2 separate regions of the Homo sapiens genome follow, and region 1 is linked to region 2. Evidence: fine-mapped expression QTL. A gene starts in region 2. The other region holds a variant in brackets. All regions are shown on one strand. Distances are between the middles of the regions. Region 1 overlaps LRP1 (LDL receptor related protein 1). Region 2 holds the start of STAC3 (SH3 and cysteine rich domain 3).

Region 1 (8,999 bases), 97 kb before region 2:
TGAAGAGGCCATGATCAAAGAAGCTCCAGAGGCCTATGGAGCCTGTAACAGGAAAACTTCCTTCTTTTTTTTTTTTTTTTTTTTGAGATGGAGTCTCACTCTGTCGCCCAGGCTGGAGTGCAGTGATGCAATCTTGGCTCACTGCAAGCTCTGCCTCCCGGGTTCACGCCATTCTTCTGCCTCAGGCTCCCGAGTAGCTAGGACTACAGGTGCCCGCCACCACGCCTGGCTAATTTTTTGTGTTTTTAGTAGAGACAGAGTTTTACCATGTTAGCCAGGATGGTCTCGATCTCCTGGCCTCATGATCCACCTGCTTCAGCCTCCCAGAGTGCTGGGATTACAGGCGTGAGCCACTGAGCCTGGCCTTGAAAACTTCCTTCTAATAGGGCAAGCTTCCTTCTGGGAGCCTGAGCCGAGTCTTGACGAGTAGTAGGTGTTAGCCCCAAATGGCCCACCTGGAGGGCCCACCTAGAGTCAGGAGGCCACAGGGCTCTGGCTGGAGGCACAGAGGGCGACTTGGTGGAAAAGGTGGGAAAGGATGGGTTCAGGGAGGGGAGGACATGGTGGGAACCGCAGCCCCCATGTGGGGAGTGTTTATCATGCACCAGGCCTCATGCTAAGTGCAGTTAGTGTACCATCCAGTTTTACAAATGAGGAAACAGAGACTCAGAGGCATTAAGTAACTTGCTCATAGCCTCAGTTGGAAGGTGACAGAACCAGAATTCAAACTCAGGCTGTCAGTGTCTAGGGCCCAGTTGGACCCAGGGCAGAGCAGAATGATATGAGGAGAGGTGGGGAGGTTCCTGGAACAAGGGCCAGAATCTAGTGTGCTCCCTGGGGATGTGGATAGAGGTCCAGGGACCTCTTTGGATGTGTATACACTCTTGGGTGTGTAGATGTGTTGGGTGACATTTTCTCAGGACATAAAGGCTTCTTCCTTCCTTCCGATTTCCTTATTTTAGAGCAGGTGACTAGAATCCTGCAGCTGAAGCTAGAGTCTTTTTGGGCATGGGGTGGGTCCCATGTGTTTGGGAAAGCAGCCACCATGTATGGAAATGCCTCTTGAACAATGGGAATGATGGAGAAGTTGAGAAAAGCTGGAGTTGTAGTGAGTGCAGATGCTGAGCAGTGGGATGGGGTGCCAGGACACCAGGTCTATTCTGGGGCCTGGAACTGAAAGTCCTCTGTGCCATAATGGGCAGCTGTGGTCTCTCGTCTGACTCCTGCACCTCTTCCCTGCTTCCTAGCCTCCCTCTTCATGCTGGAATCCCCTGCCCCTCTGCCCCTAGACCACCCCCAACTCCTTCCACAACACAGCCTCCCTCTCTCCCCTTTGGTTTATTTGAGATTCTCCTGTCCTCAGGATTTTCGGCCTTTGGCCAGAGCCTCTTCAGAAGGTGCGCTCAGGTGGTTGGCCCTTAGAAGGCTGGGCGACAAGGGGACGGCTCCCCTCAGGGTTGGTGGAGCCAGAATGCTCAGGATCTCTGGGCTGAAGCCCAGGACTCCACCTGGACCCCAATTCATAAGACAGAGAGGGGTGGCCCAGATACTGCCTATAGGGCAGCCCTGGAGGCAAGGTTCCTCCTCTCCCTTTGAGCCCATCTCTCTACACTGGCCTTGGAGTGGTGGCCAAGTGTATGTGTGTGTGTGTGATTGTGCGTGCATTTGTGTGTGCATACGTGCGTATGTGCGTGTGTGTGTGGTGGGGCAGGCAGAGGAATCTGAACTTTAGGAGAGAGAAAAATAATGTGGTGCAGGGGGTTGGATAACAAAGGATTTTTGCTTGCAACTAATAGTCTCCAGCTGCAAAAATACCAAAGGGGAGGCCAGGCAGGCCGAGGACTCCAGTTCTTGCCAACTCCTCACCGGCCTGCTGAGTGGGGCCCTGCCTGGCCTTTGGGGAGGTGGAAGGGAGACCGGCCAAGGGTAAATATCTGAGAGCAGGGATGATCTCTCTGCCTTCCTTCCCGGAATTGGGAGGGAATCCAGGCCACATCCTGAGGCTGGGGGGGCTGATTGTGGAGCTGCACCTGGGATAGCGGCATCAGATCTCTGCAGGTTTCTTCCTTCTCTCTCTTGCCAAGAGAAGGGTGGATAGGGGGAGCAGGGGCAGGGTATTGCCAGCCCTAGGGCTGGGCAGTGACTCAGGGAAGCCTCAGGAAGTCGGAGAGAAGGCCGGCCGTAGCTGCGCCAGCTGGTGCTGGGAAAACAGCTTTCACTGATGAAGTTCATACACATGCCAGCAGCCCCCAGACCCCTGCCGTGCCCACCAAGTAAAGGGCACGCAGCCCTGTTTGACTTCCAGCCACCCTGCTGGCTGCCAGGGGATGCAGGCAGGTCCCTGCTTTGAGACTTCGATTTCCTTTGGAGGCAGCCCAGCAGCATTCATTTGAATCTGTTTTCTCTGTGGTTACAGCGTGTGGGGCAAAGAATTTGGTTGCCTTACCCCTGCACTAGGCCCTCTTCCTACAGGGCCTTGGCCTCCTCAAGCTACTCTTCCCCCTCTCTCCAATCTTGTGAGGATGGGACAGTACTGGGGGCCCAGAGGAAAGAGTGGCTGGGCTTGGGGATGCATGAATACTTACGGGGGTAATACCTCGTCTCTGTGGCCTTGTTCTCCAGGCATTGGGATGGGATTTAGCAGAGAGGACCTGAAGAAGAAACTAGTTTGATGAAGCCCTCAGTTGGCTCCTTCCCTTCCTGTCCTGTGACTCTGAGTCAGTGTCAGGGCCCAGCCAAGTTCCTTGAGAGCGGCGTTCCTGTTCTTTTTGCCCCCACCCCACCCTCACCCACTGTTAGGGAGCAGCCCCTGAATCCCTGTGGGGAGGAGGGGGAATTAGGGAGGGGTCAAGCAGAACAGCAAGTCATTATACCTGTAGCTGTGTGGGGGCAGAAGAATCCCTACTGGGTTGAGTATGGGTAATGGAGGATGAGTTTCAGCCCAAAGCAGGTAGCCCAAAGATTTCTTTACTTGTTGGGGAAACTGTTGGAGATGGAGTTCCAGGCAGGGGTCCCAGAAAGTCACTGCCTTAGGAGTTTCCCAGTTTGCAAGAGGCACCATCTCTGATGGTGGTAGTTGAAGGGGGTAGTGAGTAGATGGAAGGAAGCCAGTGGTCCTGGAGAGGAGGAGCCCAGAGGAGGCCAGCATGTGTCCCTGTCCCCAGACTTCCTGCCTCCTTGACTTCCGGCCACCCTTGCCCTGCCTCTCTTTCCTTTGGCTCTTCTTGGCTTCTTCCATCTCCTCCAGAACCATGCCTGAAACTGAGTCTAGGCAGCTGGGCTCCATCTCCTTCCCCCACTCCCATCATCCTTAAGCCCCATCTCTTTCTGAGCCATGCCTCAGTTTGCCCTGAGGATTCTTTCATGGCCCTCCTCCTAGACTCTCTCTCCTCCAGCCCTATGACTTATTCCCCACCTCTTCTGACCCTCCCCAGGACATGAGGACATTGAGCAATAAGGACATTGCAGGAACAGGGGACTGGGGCTGAGTAGAGGAAGTTTGGCCCATGTCACTGGTGCCCAACCTTTTGCCCCCATGGATCTTCCCTTTGGCATCTCTGTAGAGTTCATATTTTGAAATACTTTTCTCCCAAACTGGGTTTATTAGCGTGTACCCTGCTTTTCCACTTTAAAAATTTATGCCATATGTCCAGCTTCCAGTCAGTGCTTCTGGTTAGCATGAGATAACTAGATTTACTGTAGATGGTAGATAAAAGTCCAGTGAAAAGCAAAGATGTGTAATGTTTTGGTAGCCTCAGTGCTCTTATCCCAAGTAAAAGCAAAGTTAAAAAAAAAAAAAAACTGGACTGAGCTAGTGGACCTGTGCTCTCTACCTTTTGGTGCCCCAAGAAGATGGTCCCTTTTCAAGGATGGGCTAGAATTGGGAAGTCTGTCAGTCAACCAGCCAGCCAGCATTTACGCAAGCCCTCCTGTATATCCACTCTGAGCTAAGCATGGGGGTGTTGGGTGGGAGGGCGTCCAGAGAAGGTGGGCTTCCAGGTGTGGGTTCTCACCAGCAAAGGGTGGGCATCTCTGCAAGAGGGCCTACCCCACCCCATGGCTCTTTCATTCGTACTCTCCAGACGTGGAACAGATGGCCATCGACTGGCTGACAGGCAACTTCTACTTTGTGGATGACATCGATGATAGGATCTTTGTCTGCAACAGAAATGGGGACACATGTGTCACATTGCTAGACCTGGAACTCTACAACCCCAAGGGCATTGCCCTGGACCCTGCCATGGGGTGAGAGTGGCAGGCGGGGTTCTGGCCCTGGAAGGTGGGAGGCTGAGGCTACAGTGGTAAGGAGGGTGCCCAATGTCCAGACCCCATTTAACATGCATCTTCCCACAGGAAGGTGTTTTTCACTGACTATGGGCAGATCCCAAAGGTGGAACGCTGTGACATGGATGGGCAGAACCGCACCAAGCTCGTCGACAGCAAGATTGTGTTTCCTCATGGCATCACGCTGGACCTGGTCAGCCGCCTTGTCTACTGGGCAGATGCCTATCTGGACTATATTGAAGTGGTGGACTATGAGGGCAAGGGCCGCCAGACCATCATCCAGGGCATCCTGGTGAGGGAGCTACTGTCTGAGGTTTTGTGGGGGAACCATGATCCAGGGCCTTCTGGTGAGGGGGGAAGCCTCTGTAGGGGAACCGTTCTCTGAGTCTCCTGGTAAAGAGCGTGGATGCCCCAGGCCTCTAGTGGGAGTGGGGTGGGCTTGAATACTGCAGAGAAAGGACAAGATACGGGTTCCACTGTGATGGGAACAGTCATTTTAGAAACACCACTTCTGTTTACTTCCTGTTTCTCATTTGACCCTTATAATAACCCCTAGCTGATGAACAGGGAGGTGGTTCAGTTCCCTTTCAGCAGATGAAAAAGCAGGATCAAAGAGGTTAGGTGATTTGCCTGTGTTTACAAAGCCGGGTGATAGCACTGGAACTTG[T/G]TCTAGAAGCCTTGCTGGCTCAGAGGTGGCATCTCCATTGTGGGATAATTAGTGTGAGCAACCAGCCCAGTTTGCCTAGGACTGTCCCAGTTTTAGCCCTGAAAGTCTGGTAAGCCAGCAAACCCTTACCTTTGTCTTAGGCAAACTAGGACAGTTGGCCACCGCAGATAAGCTATGTGGGTAGTCAGGGGTGTTACAGGACTTGCTTGGGGCAAGTGTGTCCTCTTAGCCCTCATAACAGACTAAGAATGTCCTCTGTGGACAGAGTTTAGAGCCCATCTCTAATTCAGTCTAAAATCACTAAAGTGTCTAACGAGTGCCTAATTCTGTGAAGGACAGGGTTTCTGCCCTCAAGGGGTCTGAGTAGAGTGGGTGAGATAAGTCCACAAATCACTGTGCCAGACACGGATAGATAGCAGTGTCACGGAGGATGTATAGAAGGAGAAAACATCTCTGGTTAGAAGATTCCATAAATTCTTTAAAGACATGCTCTGTAGAGGATGAGTGGGATCTTGGTAAGCAAAAATCTTCAGAATAGGTTAGTCCAGCCAGAGGAGACAGGAGTAAAGCATTGAGTTAAAAAATGGTGGGGCCAGGCACGGTAGCCCACACCTGTAATCCCAGCACTTTGGGAGGCTGAGGCAGGAGAAGTGCTTGAGCCTCGGAGGTCGAGACCAGCCTGAGCAACATAGGGAAACCCCATCTCTACACAAAATTTGTTTTAATTAGCCAGGTGTGGTGGTATGTTCCTGTAGTCCCAACTACTCAGGAGGCTGAAGCAGGAGGGCCGCTTAAGCCCAGGAGGTGGAGACTGCAGTGAGCCGTGATCGTGCCATTGCACTTCAGCCTGGGTGACAGAGTGAGGTCCCGTCTCAAAATAAATAAATAAAAATTAAAAACTACAGGATGAATTGGGGAATGCAGGTCATGAAGTCTGGAGGAAGCTGAGGGGATCTCCAGGACAGAGGGAGGAACCCCTGTCATCTCATGCTGTCCATTCTTGCCTGCCCGTCTCAGATTGAGCACCTGTACGGCCTGACTGTGTTTGAGAATTATCTCTATGCCACCAACTCGGACAATGCCAATGCCCAGCAGAAGACGAGTGTGATCCGTGTGAACCGCTTTAACAGCACCGAGTACCAGGTTGTCACCCGGGTGGACAAGGGTGGTGCCCTCCACATCTACCACCAGAGGCGTCAGCCCCGAGGTGAGCAGGGCTCCATGGCCCCTCCAAAGCTGGCTTTACCCCATGATGGCTCTGGGACCTTGGGATCACAGCCCCTCTCTGGGCCCTCCTGTGGGGACCCTGGCTTCTTTCATGTCATGACCGATTCTCCTAGCCAGCCACTCGGGCTACCTGCCCTGGCCCCTCAGCTTCCCCTGCCAGCCCCCATCCACCCACTCAGCCTCCAGATCCCACTCTGTCCCTCCCATTCCCCTTGCCAGTCTGGAGCAGTAGCACCTGGCCATGGGCAACCCTGGAACTCTCTTCCCTGACTACTGAAGCCCCCACTCCAAGAGTTTGAAGGCTGGGTTGTTGGGGGGCAGAGGGTTTCCACCCCTGTGGCTTCCAAATCCTAAAATGGGATAGCAAGCACAAAGACCACAGCAGCAGGGGGTGTGGTCAGATTCAGGAAGCCTTCTCAAGGCCTGGCACAGGGGCTCTGAGGGGTCCTAACAGCTCTTCACCCTGCCCCCAGTGAGGAGCCATGCCTGTGAAAACGACCAGTATGGGAAGCCGGGTGGCTGCTCTGACATCTGCCTGCTGGCCAACAGCCACAAGGCGCGGACCTGCCGCTGCCGTTCCGGCTTCAGCCTGGGCAGTGACGGGAAGTCATGCAAGAGTGAGTGACAGGGAAGGGGGTGTGTGCCCATTGGGAGGCTGCGGGAGGGTTCCTCAGGTGTCCCCCACAGCCCGGCTGCCTCTGTCTGACATGCAGGGAGATGAAGGAAGTGTCCCAGAGTGTACCTGCTAGTGAGGGCAGAGATGGGACTTGAATCCATATTCGAAAAAAGTGCTTTTCTCACTCACCCACCGGACTCTGCAGAAAACTAAACTGATTCATTCAGCAAGTGTCTAGTGAGCAGTGAGCACTCACTACATGTTTGGCACTGTTCTGGTCATCAGGATTAAGCAGCGAACGAGATAGATGTTGTCCCTGGCCTCATGGAGCTTATAGTCTAGTTGGGGAAACAAATAAATGTAACTTTAGGTGGTAATAAGTGGTTATGAAGAAAATAAAACAGAGAATAGTCAGGCGTGGTGGCTTATGCCTGTAATCTCAGCACTTTGGGAGGCCGAGGCAGGCAGATCACTTGAGGTGAGGCGTTCCACACCAGGCTGGCCAACATGGTGAAACCCCGTCTCTACTGAAAATACAAAAATTAGCTGGGTGTGATGGTGCGTGCCTATAATCCCAGCTATTGGGGAGGCTGAGACAGGAGAATCACTTGAACCTGGGAGGTGGAGGTTGCAGTGAGCTGAGATGGCGCTACCACACTCCAGCCTGGATGACAGAGCGAGACTTCATCTCAAAAAATTAAAAATAAATGAATAAATAAAGCAGAGAATAGAGTTAATGAGGAGAGCAAGGGCCTCTCTGAGGATGTGGTGTTTGAGCCAAGCTCTCTGTGAAATGAAGAGGGCAACCATGTAACTCCCTGAGGGAGGAGCATGTCCGGCAGAGGAAATCAACAGTGCAAAGGCCCTGAGGCCAGTGTGAGTGTGGCAAGCCAGAGGAACAGCACGAAGGCCAGCGGGGCTGAGTGGTGTGAGGGCAGAGAAGGAGGCAGGGGTTGGATTTTATTATATCTGGGATAGGAAGCTCATAGTGACTTTTGAGAATGGAAGTGACATGATTGGATTCACATTTGTATAAAAGTCACGCTGCTACTGGGTGGGGGATGGGCAGTAGGGAAGTAGCCAGAAGACTTTCAGTGTAGTGGGCAAGAAGTGATGTGGTTTACACTAGGATGGCAGCAGAGGAAGTGGTAAACAGTGATGTGACTCCAACATATTTTGAAGGTACTCCTTTTATACCACTGATTTCATGACTGATCAGTGGGCACTTAGCTGAAAACCTGCTATTCTTCCCTCATTTCCTACCCTTGGAGTGCAGAGGTCAGACCCCAGGGTATTGCGGCCAGGACCCATCGTCCTGTATGTTAGCGTGTGCGTGGTCTGTCCATCTGACCCAGAGCCTCGCATCCCTAACGTCTCCTGACCCATCACAGCTAGGGCATTGCAGCCCCTTGGCCGCAGCCCCTGGGTGGGGATGATGGTCATGTGTGTGTCTGACTGTACCCTGGCTTGTGCCTGCTCTAGAGCCGGAGCATGAGCTGTTCCTCGTGTATGGCAAGGGCCGGCCAGGCATCATCCGGGGCATGGATATGGGGGCCAAGGTCCCGGATGAGCACATGATCCCCATTGAAAACCTCATGAACCCCCGAGCCCTGGACTTCCACGCTGAGACCGGCTTCATCTACTTTGCCGACACCACCAGCTACCTCATTGGCCGCCAGAAGATTGATGGCACTGAGCGGGAGACCATCCTGAAGGACGGTATGGGCTCCTAGGGATGTGGCCCATGGGGATGGAAGGGGGCTGGGGCCCAGGCATCTGTTTCTCGGTGCCCTCTCAGCAGGATGGTCCCCTGCTGACTGGCTGGCTGCACTGGTTGGCATGGAGATGAGGGGATAGACAGATTGACCCCTGTGTGACCCCCTTCTTGGCTGAGCCAAAGAGGCAGGGTTAGGATGGGTTAGGCAGCATGGGCCGTCCTTGCCAGCCCTTGGGAAAACTCAGGGTCTGTCTGCATTGGCTTAGAGCCCTGGAGCTGCACACAGCACACAGCCAGGGGACAACTGAGGTCTTGAATTGGAGACAGGCCTGCCAGATCAAAACAGGGCACACCCACATGTATGTGCGCACACAGGGTCTGTGCAGCTGACCTTGCAGTCGCCAAAAACTGCATGCTAATGTGTCCTGAGAAAATTGTGTTTTGTGAGTTGCATCCAGGTCTTCCCTCTGAGCTGCTTGGGCAGGTTC
Region 2 (8,999 bases):
AGGAAAGGAAGGGAGAGGTGGGATTGAGTAGATGGATACCCATGTGTGTGTTGGGTGGCGGTGGGGGCGCCGCGGGGAAGATTAGGGAAGGGTCAGCTAGGCAATACCCAGGACACCAATCTATAAAGGACTTTAAAAACATCACTGGTGATGTAAAGTGAGGGAGGAAAGTATTTATTAGAACTCCTTCCAGGCAGAGCATTATATGATGTTTGAAACACAACTTTGCTTGCTTGGGAGCTGAGACATGCGCAGAATCACTATTCTCCTTCTAAGGAGAATGGGCCCTTAACTGCTGGCTTTTGTTCTGCTAAATGGCATGTGTAAGCTGAGGTGCTGCCACCAATAGGTTCTTCTTTTTCACCCATGCTCTTCACAGAGTTCAGCCTCTCCTCCAAATAAATGTTGAGCAAATTTGTCAATGAATATGTTTTTAAGGGTTGCCAAATTATTATTATTATTATTATTATTATTTTTTTTTTTTTTTTTTTTTTTGAGACGGAGTCTCGCTCTGTCACCCAGGCTGGAGTACAGTGGCACAATCTCGGCTCACTGCAAGCTCCGCCTCCCGGGTTCATGCCATTCTCCTGCCTCAGCCTCTCCGAGTAGCTGGGACTACAGGCGCCTGCCACCACGCCCGGCTAATTTTTGTGTGTTTTTAGTAGAGACGGGGTTTCACCGTGGTCTCGATCTCCTGACCTCGTGATCCACCCGCCTCGGCCTCCCAAAGTGCTGGGATTACAAACGTGAGCCACCGCGCCCGGCCTGGGTTGCCAAATTATGAACCTGCCCAGGGTGCCTGCAGCCTTTGGGTCTTGCCCCGAGTCTGATATGACTCTGTAGTAAGGATGAGGACAATCTAGAATCCTTGTTCTTGCTTAGAAATGATTTTGCACACAAAGAGCACAGATTCTGAAGCTAGCAACTGAAGATTCCAGTCTTGGCTCTACCTCTTGCTAACTGTATGTAGTTGCAACTAAATCGTATCTCCCTCTGCTGTAAAATGGGGATATTGCCTCTGCATCCAAATGGATATAAAAATGTGAGGTTGAGGGAGAATTATGGGAAACAGAAAGTTTCTGTTTCAGAATTTGGCTCCCAAAGCTAGAGATGGCATGAAACCATCTCTAGGCTTGCCCATTCCCTCATGTTCCATAAAGGGCACTTACAGAGATCTTTGACACAAGCGTACTGCTGGTTGCTGTAGAGTGGGGAACTATAGGCCCGATGGAAACCAGGTGGCTGTAGGATGGGATGAGAGGAAGCATTAGAGGTAGCAAAGTAAGGTCCAGAAGCCTATCTCTCCCAGGAGTGCTCACCCTTTCTCAGAAAAAGAGATGGGCTGAGAAAGAAAAAGCAGAGAAATGAATGGGATGGAGGAGAGACCAGCAAGGGGTAGCTGGCTGGTGACATGTCCCCTCTTTTTTTTTTTTTTTTTTTGAGACGGAGTCTCGCTCTGTCACCCAGGCTGGAGTGCAGTGGCACAATCTCGGCTCACTGCAAGCTCCGCCTCCCGAGTTTACGCCATTCTCCTGCCTCAGCCTCCTGAGTAGCTGGGACTACAGGCACCTGTCACCACGCCCGGCTAATTTTTTGTATTTAGAGACGGGGTTTCACTGTGTTAGCCAGGATGGTCTCGATCTCCTGACCTCGTGATCCGCCCACCTCAGCCTCCCAAAGTGCTGGGATTACAGGCGTGAGCCACCACGCGTGGCCATGTCCCCTCCTTGCTCTCCACAGCCTACTCACGATCTTGCCGAAGCATCTCTGCATTTCCACATAGGACTGACAGTGTTCATGGATGTTGGTTTTGCAGTTCTTACAGCGAAGCCCAAACTTGTTGTTGACTTGGGAAAGGGGGAGAAAATTCAGATAAGGTTCCAGATTGCCCTTTCCCTTTGTACCACTGCTGCTACTCTTAGGTTTCCTTTTCTGTCTGGGACCCTACTTGCTCAATCTCTAATAGCATTGCCTTACACCAACTCTAGCCACAGCCCATCTGCTACAAATACTCCTCTCCTATGCCCTCTCCCCAAACCTCTGCCTTCAATATCATACTCTCTTCACTTCCCTTCATGACTCACGAACAATCATCCGGGCACAGACATCACAGAACTTTGGCTTCTTGAAGAAGTGATCTTTGAATTTGTGGGGCTTATCGTTGACCAGCTTAGGAGGTTCTGGGGGTGGCTCCTCCTCCTCCTCTTCTTCCTCTTCCTCTTCCTCATAGATGTAGTAGATGGGCCCACCCCCAGCTCCCACTGCCTCCCCATTGGCCTGGGGCTCTGGGGGAAGTTCCATCTCCTTTGTCCCTGTAGAACCCTTCCTGAGTAACTGCTTTAGCCGCTGTAGCTGAGGGAGGGAGTGAAGAAAACCCAATGTTAAAAGGACTTGTCACCCTCTCTAGAGTAGGGGGGCGCTAGAGCAAACTAGACAGTTTTCTAGTTTCAGGCAAGGAATGTACCCCAGGATTAGGGGGGTATTGGTATTGGGGACTGCAGGTGCTGGCCAGCAAAAAATGAGTCACACACAAATGAGATCAATTTAAGCACTCTTCTTCAGCTGTAATGGCTTCCCAGCCCCCCACACCCAGTGGTCAGAGGCCCAGACTCACCCCACTTTGCCGAGTCTCTGCTGGGAAGGAGGGCTTAGGGGACTCCAGCACCTCCTTTTCTGTCATCCTGCAAGAGGTTGGACCCCACTATGAAATCTAATCCCTTTCATTCTTCTCTCCCTTTCTGTCCCTTGCAGTAGGGTGGTCCTCAAAGGGGAGGCTTTCGGAGAAATGTGATGAGAGATTTTGCTGTTGTTACTGTTGAGATGGGGTCTCACTCTGTCACCCAGGCTGGAGTGCAGTGGCGTGATCATGGCTCACTGCAGCCTCGACCTCCCAGCCTGAAGCGATCCCCCTACCTCAGCTTCCTGAGTAGCTGGAACACAAGGTGCACACTACCTGGCTACTTTTTTATTTTTTGTAGAGACATGGTCTTGCTTTGTTGCCTAGGCTGGTCCCGAACTAGCTCAAGCAATCTTCCTGTTTCAACCTCCCAAATTGTTGAGACAGGCGTGAGCCACTGCACTGGGCCAAATACAGATCCTTTGGCAGGTTTTATTAACAGATTTCATGGAGGTCTAGAAAAAAGCTTAACATGGCCGGGTGTGGTGGTGCATGCCTGTAATCCCAGCACTTTGGGAGGCTGAGGCAGGCGGATCACTAGAGATCAGGAGTTCAAGACTAGCCTGGCCAACATGGTGAAACCCCATCTCTACTAAATATATAAAAATTAGCCGGGTGTGGTGGCGGACGCCTGTAATCCCATCCACTCAGGAAGCTGAGGAAGGATAATCGCTTGAACCCGGGAGGCGGAGGTTGCAGTGAGCCGGGATTGTGCCACTGCCCTCCAGCCTGGGTGACAGAGCAAGACTTCGTCTCAAAAAAAAAAAAAAAAAAAAAAAAAAAGCCCAACAGACTAAAGAGCTTCCCAATTAGTTCCTCAAACTGATACTCATCCTTCCATCCTGAGGGGCGACCCCATAGTTTACAGCCCTTACACAGTGTTCAAAGCTGCGTGGTTTACGTCATTTTCCTATAGGTACTTTGTTTCTCCTGGAAATCTGTGGGCAACAGAGATGTGATGCATACCTTCCCAGATCTCCTCTCTTCAAGAGGTTTAATGTGTGTCCTCGTGTGCACACAAGGAAGGATGGACTGGAGACATTTGTCCTCCCCTACTTTTTTCTTGAGCCCTGGGGGCCCTGTGCCTAGTTCTGTCCCAGCCTGCCTCAGGGCTCAGCTATTTTAAGTTTTCAGGGTAATATGAGCCTTTCCTTCCCTTACTACTTCATTCCCTTCACCCCACCCCCACCCCCACCCCCCGCTTCAATCCAAACTCATCCTAGAGTAGAATAATAATTTTACGCCTAAAACCCAAAAGACTCACAGACAAGGAGAGAAATGAAGAAGCTGAGTAGATTATAGATCAGGGCAGCTGGGGTGAGCAGTCGTGGAAATCAAGAGGATGAAGAGGTAACTTACGTTCGGGATTCCCTAAGTCAGTCCACAGGCTGTAGAGGGAGCTGGGAGCCTCGAGGCCTTGATGGTGGTGCTGGGGAAAAACTGGTCCTCTTCCTTGGGGGCTAAGCCCCCCCAGTACCCCCTGTGTTCACACCAGCTACCCAGTCGCTATTTGTAGACCTCCTAGCCTCCTGCCTTGGTGTCAGGGCTGAAATGACAGGGCTGGAGGAAAGTGGACAGCTGAGAAACACAGCTGACACAGAGAAATTGGACACTGAGAGGTCTGGGGCAGGGCCGGACCCTAACTCCTCCCAACCCCCTAGAGCTGCTGTTCCTTGATTCTTCATCTAAGGCGAACAGGTGAATAATGGCTGAATTCAGGAAGGGACAGTTTCTGTTCATGCTCATTTAACATTTAAGGGGAGTTTATTTTTATTTTTCATTTATTTTTTGAGACAGGGTAAAAAAAGACTAATTTGAACTCATAGAGCTCTCCTATCAGCCATACTAGATGGCTTTTTTTTTTTTTTTTTTGAGACAGAGTCTTGCTCTTGTTGCCCAGGCTGGAGTGCAATGAAGCGATCCGGGCTCACTGCAACCTCCCAGGTTCAAGCGATTCTCCTGCCTCAGCCTCCTAAGTAGCTGGGATTACAGGCGCCCACCACCACGCCAAGGTAATTTTTGTATTTTTAGTACAGATGGGGTTTCACCATGTTGGCCAGGCTGGTCTCGAACCCCTGACCTCAGGTGATCCGCCTGCCTTGGCCTCCCAAAGTGCTAGGATTACAGGTGTGAGCCACCGTGCATGGCTAGATTGCTTTTTATCTGTAGGTGGTTGGAGGAGTACTTTGCTATCCTGTAAGAAAGTGAAGAATATGTAGTATTGCTTCATTCCCTCCAGCAGCTCCCAGAGACATCTCCCCACCCTCCTTCTTGTAAAATTTTGTCCTCAGACTGAAGGGAATTACCAGGGCTATTAAAAAGGGCCAGTTAACACTGGACAGAAGCATATAGCTGCCACATAAGGAATTTTTTAAATCATTTCTAAGTAATGTCCCCTTCCTCATGAGAACTGCAAACTCTTAAAGGTAGGATGGCCAACCCTCACACTTCCTAAACCCTTTTGATTCCCTGATTCCATCTCCCACCTTTGATGCCTCAGTATATAACTGATGGATCAAAGAGACAGATGCCATTCTCATCTCACAGGGGTGCACCCTTCTACTCTTTGGGCTGTGACATGGATGAAAGAGGAGATACTCCCATCTCAGGGGAGAGCAATTTAGAGGTGGCAATGCAGTGCTGCTCTATTCCTTGTATCTGTAAGAAATAAAGGACTGTGTTGGAGACTGGGTCAGGCAAGCTCCTGTAGGATCGTCGTTAGGGATACAGCTACTTGGACCCAAGAGATTTCCAGGGCAACGTGCTTTGTCATTCTCACCCACTACTTTTTTCTATTTAAGGGGGGAGTTTGAAAAGGGGGTGCAGGATGGTTCTGACTCTGCAGGTTCTTTAATGGCCCTGCTCTGACAGGCTGCAGAACAACAGGGCTTGCTTTGAGATGCTCTAAAGGAAAAGCTCCATCTTGCAGGCAAGATGACTTCTGCTCTTCGTCTTTTTTCAGCCACATAGGACAGGGACTGCTGAGCATGTTTGGATAATACAGCATCTTGGCACTGCGAGTTCAGTTGCTGTAGCTTTCATTGTAATAAAAATCTGCTTCTGTCCCTGACAGGTAAAACCCAATCCTCCAGCTTTAGGATTAAAGAAAGGCAGCCAGGCACGGTGGCTCACGCCTGTAATCACAGCACTTTGGAAGGCCGAGGCGGGTGGATCACAAGGTCAGGAGTTCGAGACCAGCCTGGCCAACATGGTGAAACCCCATGTCAACTAAAAATACAAAAATTAGCTGGGCACGATGGGGCACAGCTACTCAGGAGGCTGAGGCAGGAGAACTGCTTGAACTCGGGAGGTGGAGGTTGCAGTGAGCCGAGATATCGCGCCACTGCACTCCAGCCTGGGCAACAGGGCGAGACTCCATCTCAAAAAAAAAAAAAAAAGAAAGGCCCAAGTTCTCCATCCCTAAAGGGTTTTCAGAAGACGAGCTGGGCTGGGAGTGGTGGCTCATGCCTGTAATCCCAGCACTTTAGGAGGCCAAGGCGGGAGATCACTTGAGCCCAGGAGTTCAAGACCAGCCTGGGCAACATGGTAAAACCCTGTCTCTGCCAAAAATAGCAAAAAAAAAAAAAAAAAAGATTAGCCAGGCATGCTAGATCGCGCCTGTAATCCCAGCTACTCGGGAGACTGAGGCACAAGAATCGCTTGAACACGGGAGGCGGCTGCAGTCAGCTGAGATCTGCCACTGCACTCCAGCCTGGGTGACAGAGCAAGACCCTATCTCAAAACTCAACTACAAGGGCCCTAAATGAGTACACAGTACCACAGAATTAATAGTCTGGAAGGAAACCTAGAGGTCACCTACTAAGTCCAAGTCTCTTATTTTACTGATCTGGACACAGATCCAGAGTTGAGAAGTGATATGCTCGATGAACCACAGTGGCAGAACCGGGAGAGCCCAAAGCCATGGTCCCATTAGAGATCTAGCCATCTATCAGAACCGTGTACAGGGAAGAGGATGAGACAGAGGGAATGGTGTTAAAATAGTGTGCGTATGCTAGAGAAAGCCATCCCAACCCACGACAAACACCTCCAACAGCTGTAGGGCTATACCTACCCAGGGCCTCCAACCCTTTACCCATACCAGGGCGGCAACAGAGAAACAGTGACTGATGTCCAGTGACAGATTTTTTTTTTTATATTTAAAAACAAAACCAACCTCCCCCCAAATAACCCCCAAACAAACAAAAAAACAGATTAAATAAAATTTACAGTGAATATACCCAGCAAACATCTGTATGTGCAATTAAATACTGTGTCTGTTACTGCGGCACGAACCTCAAACAAACAATATACAAGTGTTCTGGGGGGGCCAGGGGAATCCCAAGTTTTAACTCTGTGGGGTCTAGGAAGACAAGATGGGGAAGTGAGAGAATGGGGCAATCAATTTTGTTTATCTTAATTCTGTCCATATAAATATATTCATAAAGACCAAAAAAGGAAAGGAAGCTTGGGATGTTAAGGTAATAGGAGGACAGTGTGGGACTTTCCCAATTCTACCTGACCAAAAAATGAGAAATTAATTTTATGATAGGAGAAGAGATTTAAAAAAATGATAGAAGAGGATGGAAGCCAGGCACAGTGGCTCACGCCTGTAATCCCAGCACTCTGGAAGGCCAAGGCAGGTGGATCACCTGAGGTCAGGAGTTTGAGGCCAGCCTGGCCAACATGGTGAAACTCCGTCTCTACTAAAAATACAAAAATTAGCCGGGCATGGTGGCGCGTGTCTGTAGTGCCAGCTACTTGGGAGGCTGAGGCAGGAGAATCACCTGAACCCAGGAGCTGGAGGTTGCAGTTAGCCAAGATCGTGCTACTGCACTCCAGCTGGGGTGACAAGAGCGAAACTCCGTCTCAAAAAAAAAAAAAAAAAAAAAAAGAAGAGGATGGGAAGAAGAGTGATGCAAGGGGGGTCAACCAGGGAAAAAGAGAGGACCCATGGCAGGGGAGCAAGAAGGAGTCCAATGCCAGTGTAGGTATCTGTGTTTCCATCTTCATCACTGTCTTAGGTTCCAGTTTAACATCAGTTTCCTTACTTCCTGCCTCTGTCCATGGTCTGTCAGGATCCTTCAACCCCCTCCACCCTGCCCTTGCTCCTTCTGTGACAGTCCCTTTCCCCTCCTCCATTTATTGGGAGCTGGCTCGCTCCAGGATCCTCAGGTCATAGTTCTTTTTGGCCATTCGAAGTTTGAAGCGACTCACGGAGTTGTTGAGACGAAGGGAGGCATTTTGGGCAGCCAGGGGGCTGGGGAACACAGCCACAATGGTGTACAAGGCAGCGAGGTCCGAGTGGCGGCCATTCTCAGCAGTCCCACTGTTGTCCCCCCCACCCCCTCCAGGCAGCCCCTGAGCATCCTTGAGCCACTGGATCTTGGCGCCAGACATGGCGAGCTGCGTGAAGAGTTTGTCCGCCTCAGTACGGGTGATGCCCTCAGGGAGATCTGTCACCTCCAGCACCCGCCCCAGGACTGGAAGGGGAGGAGAGAGGACATGGTTGTGAGAGGAATAGGACAGGAAGGACTTGACAGCAGCCCAGCAGAGAAGTGTCCAGCTGACTAAGTCTGTATACAATGTCTTCAAAAGCCTGGCCTTTCTCTCTTAGCCCTTTCTTCCCCTCCCCACCATCCCAGCTCTGATCAGGGCAACTAGGAGAAAAACAAATGAACCTTTCTATTCTCCTAGCCCAGAGATACAGGAAAGAAGGGACAGGGAATCAGAATCCTGGGTTTCTGAGCTAAGAACCTATACCTCAGTTCTCTCACAAGGTGCTACTGCTATGAAGAAAATGTGGCTTTTGCTAATGTTCTTTAACAATAATGTATCAATCTGAAATATGTTCCATAGTTCCCTTCCCACTCAGAGGCTGGCTCAAATAGATTCTTCCTTCTTATCATCTCAGGAAGTCAAGTTTCCCTTCCTTTCCTTGTTTAGGAAATTGCTCCAAATCCCAAGACAGATCTTGTTCACCTAGTGGGAGGCTTGTAGGACGAGAGTTTCTCCCCCATATTCTCTACCAATCTTCTCCTAAACTGGGTCTAGGACTACCAAAGGTAGATGTCGTAGATTAGGGACAGGACACTAATTAGAAAACTCTTTGTTAATAAGAGGCAACTCCCATAATTGTGTTATTCCCACTTTTTACCATGATCTTCCTCAGAATCTGAGATGGCTTGGTAGGGAGGACTGAGATACTTCACTTCTCCAGTTTCTGCTTGCTTTTGAGCACAAAGGGTCCCACTTCCACTCCCCATCCTAAGCTGGCTTTTCCCACCCATGCTGGACTGGTAATTAAGCGCTGGAAGGGTGGGCA

The links.
Region 1: its variant is fine-mapped to the expression of STAC3 in whole blood (TOPMed, PIP 0.98).

Annotation. Positions count from the first base shown.
Region 1 is chr12:57,150,126-57,159,124 of GRCh38, forward strand. It overlaps LRP1 (LDL receptor related protein 1), which reads left to right. Exons shown (of 89, transcript NM_002332.3): 7 at 4,083-4,245; 8 at 4,354-4,576; 9 at 5,969-6,158; 10 at 6,652-6,795; 11 at 8,277-8,513. Among named protein-coding and RNA genes, the nearest start is that of LRP1-AS, 7.0 kb to the left of the region's middle. The variant T/G (reference allele first, on the strand shown) is at 4,952.
Region 2 is chr12:57,246,957-57,255,955 of GRCh38, forward strand. It overlaps STAC3 (SH3 and cysteine rich domain 3), which reads right to left and starts at 4,231. Exons shown (of 12, transcript NM_145064.3): 1 at 4,037-4,231; 2 at 2,615-2,681; 3 at 2,085-2,352; 4 at 1,750-1,847; 5 at 1,170-1,242. The coding sequence starts at 2,680. R3HDM2 (R3H domain containing 2) reads right to left here. Exons shown (of 24, transcript NM_001394031.1): 24 at 6,808-8,157. The coding sequence ends at 7,817. RefSeq lists an enhancer at 1,942-2,001.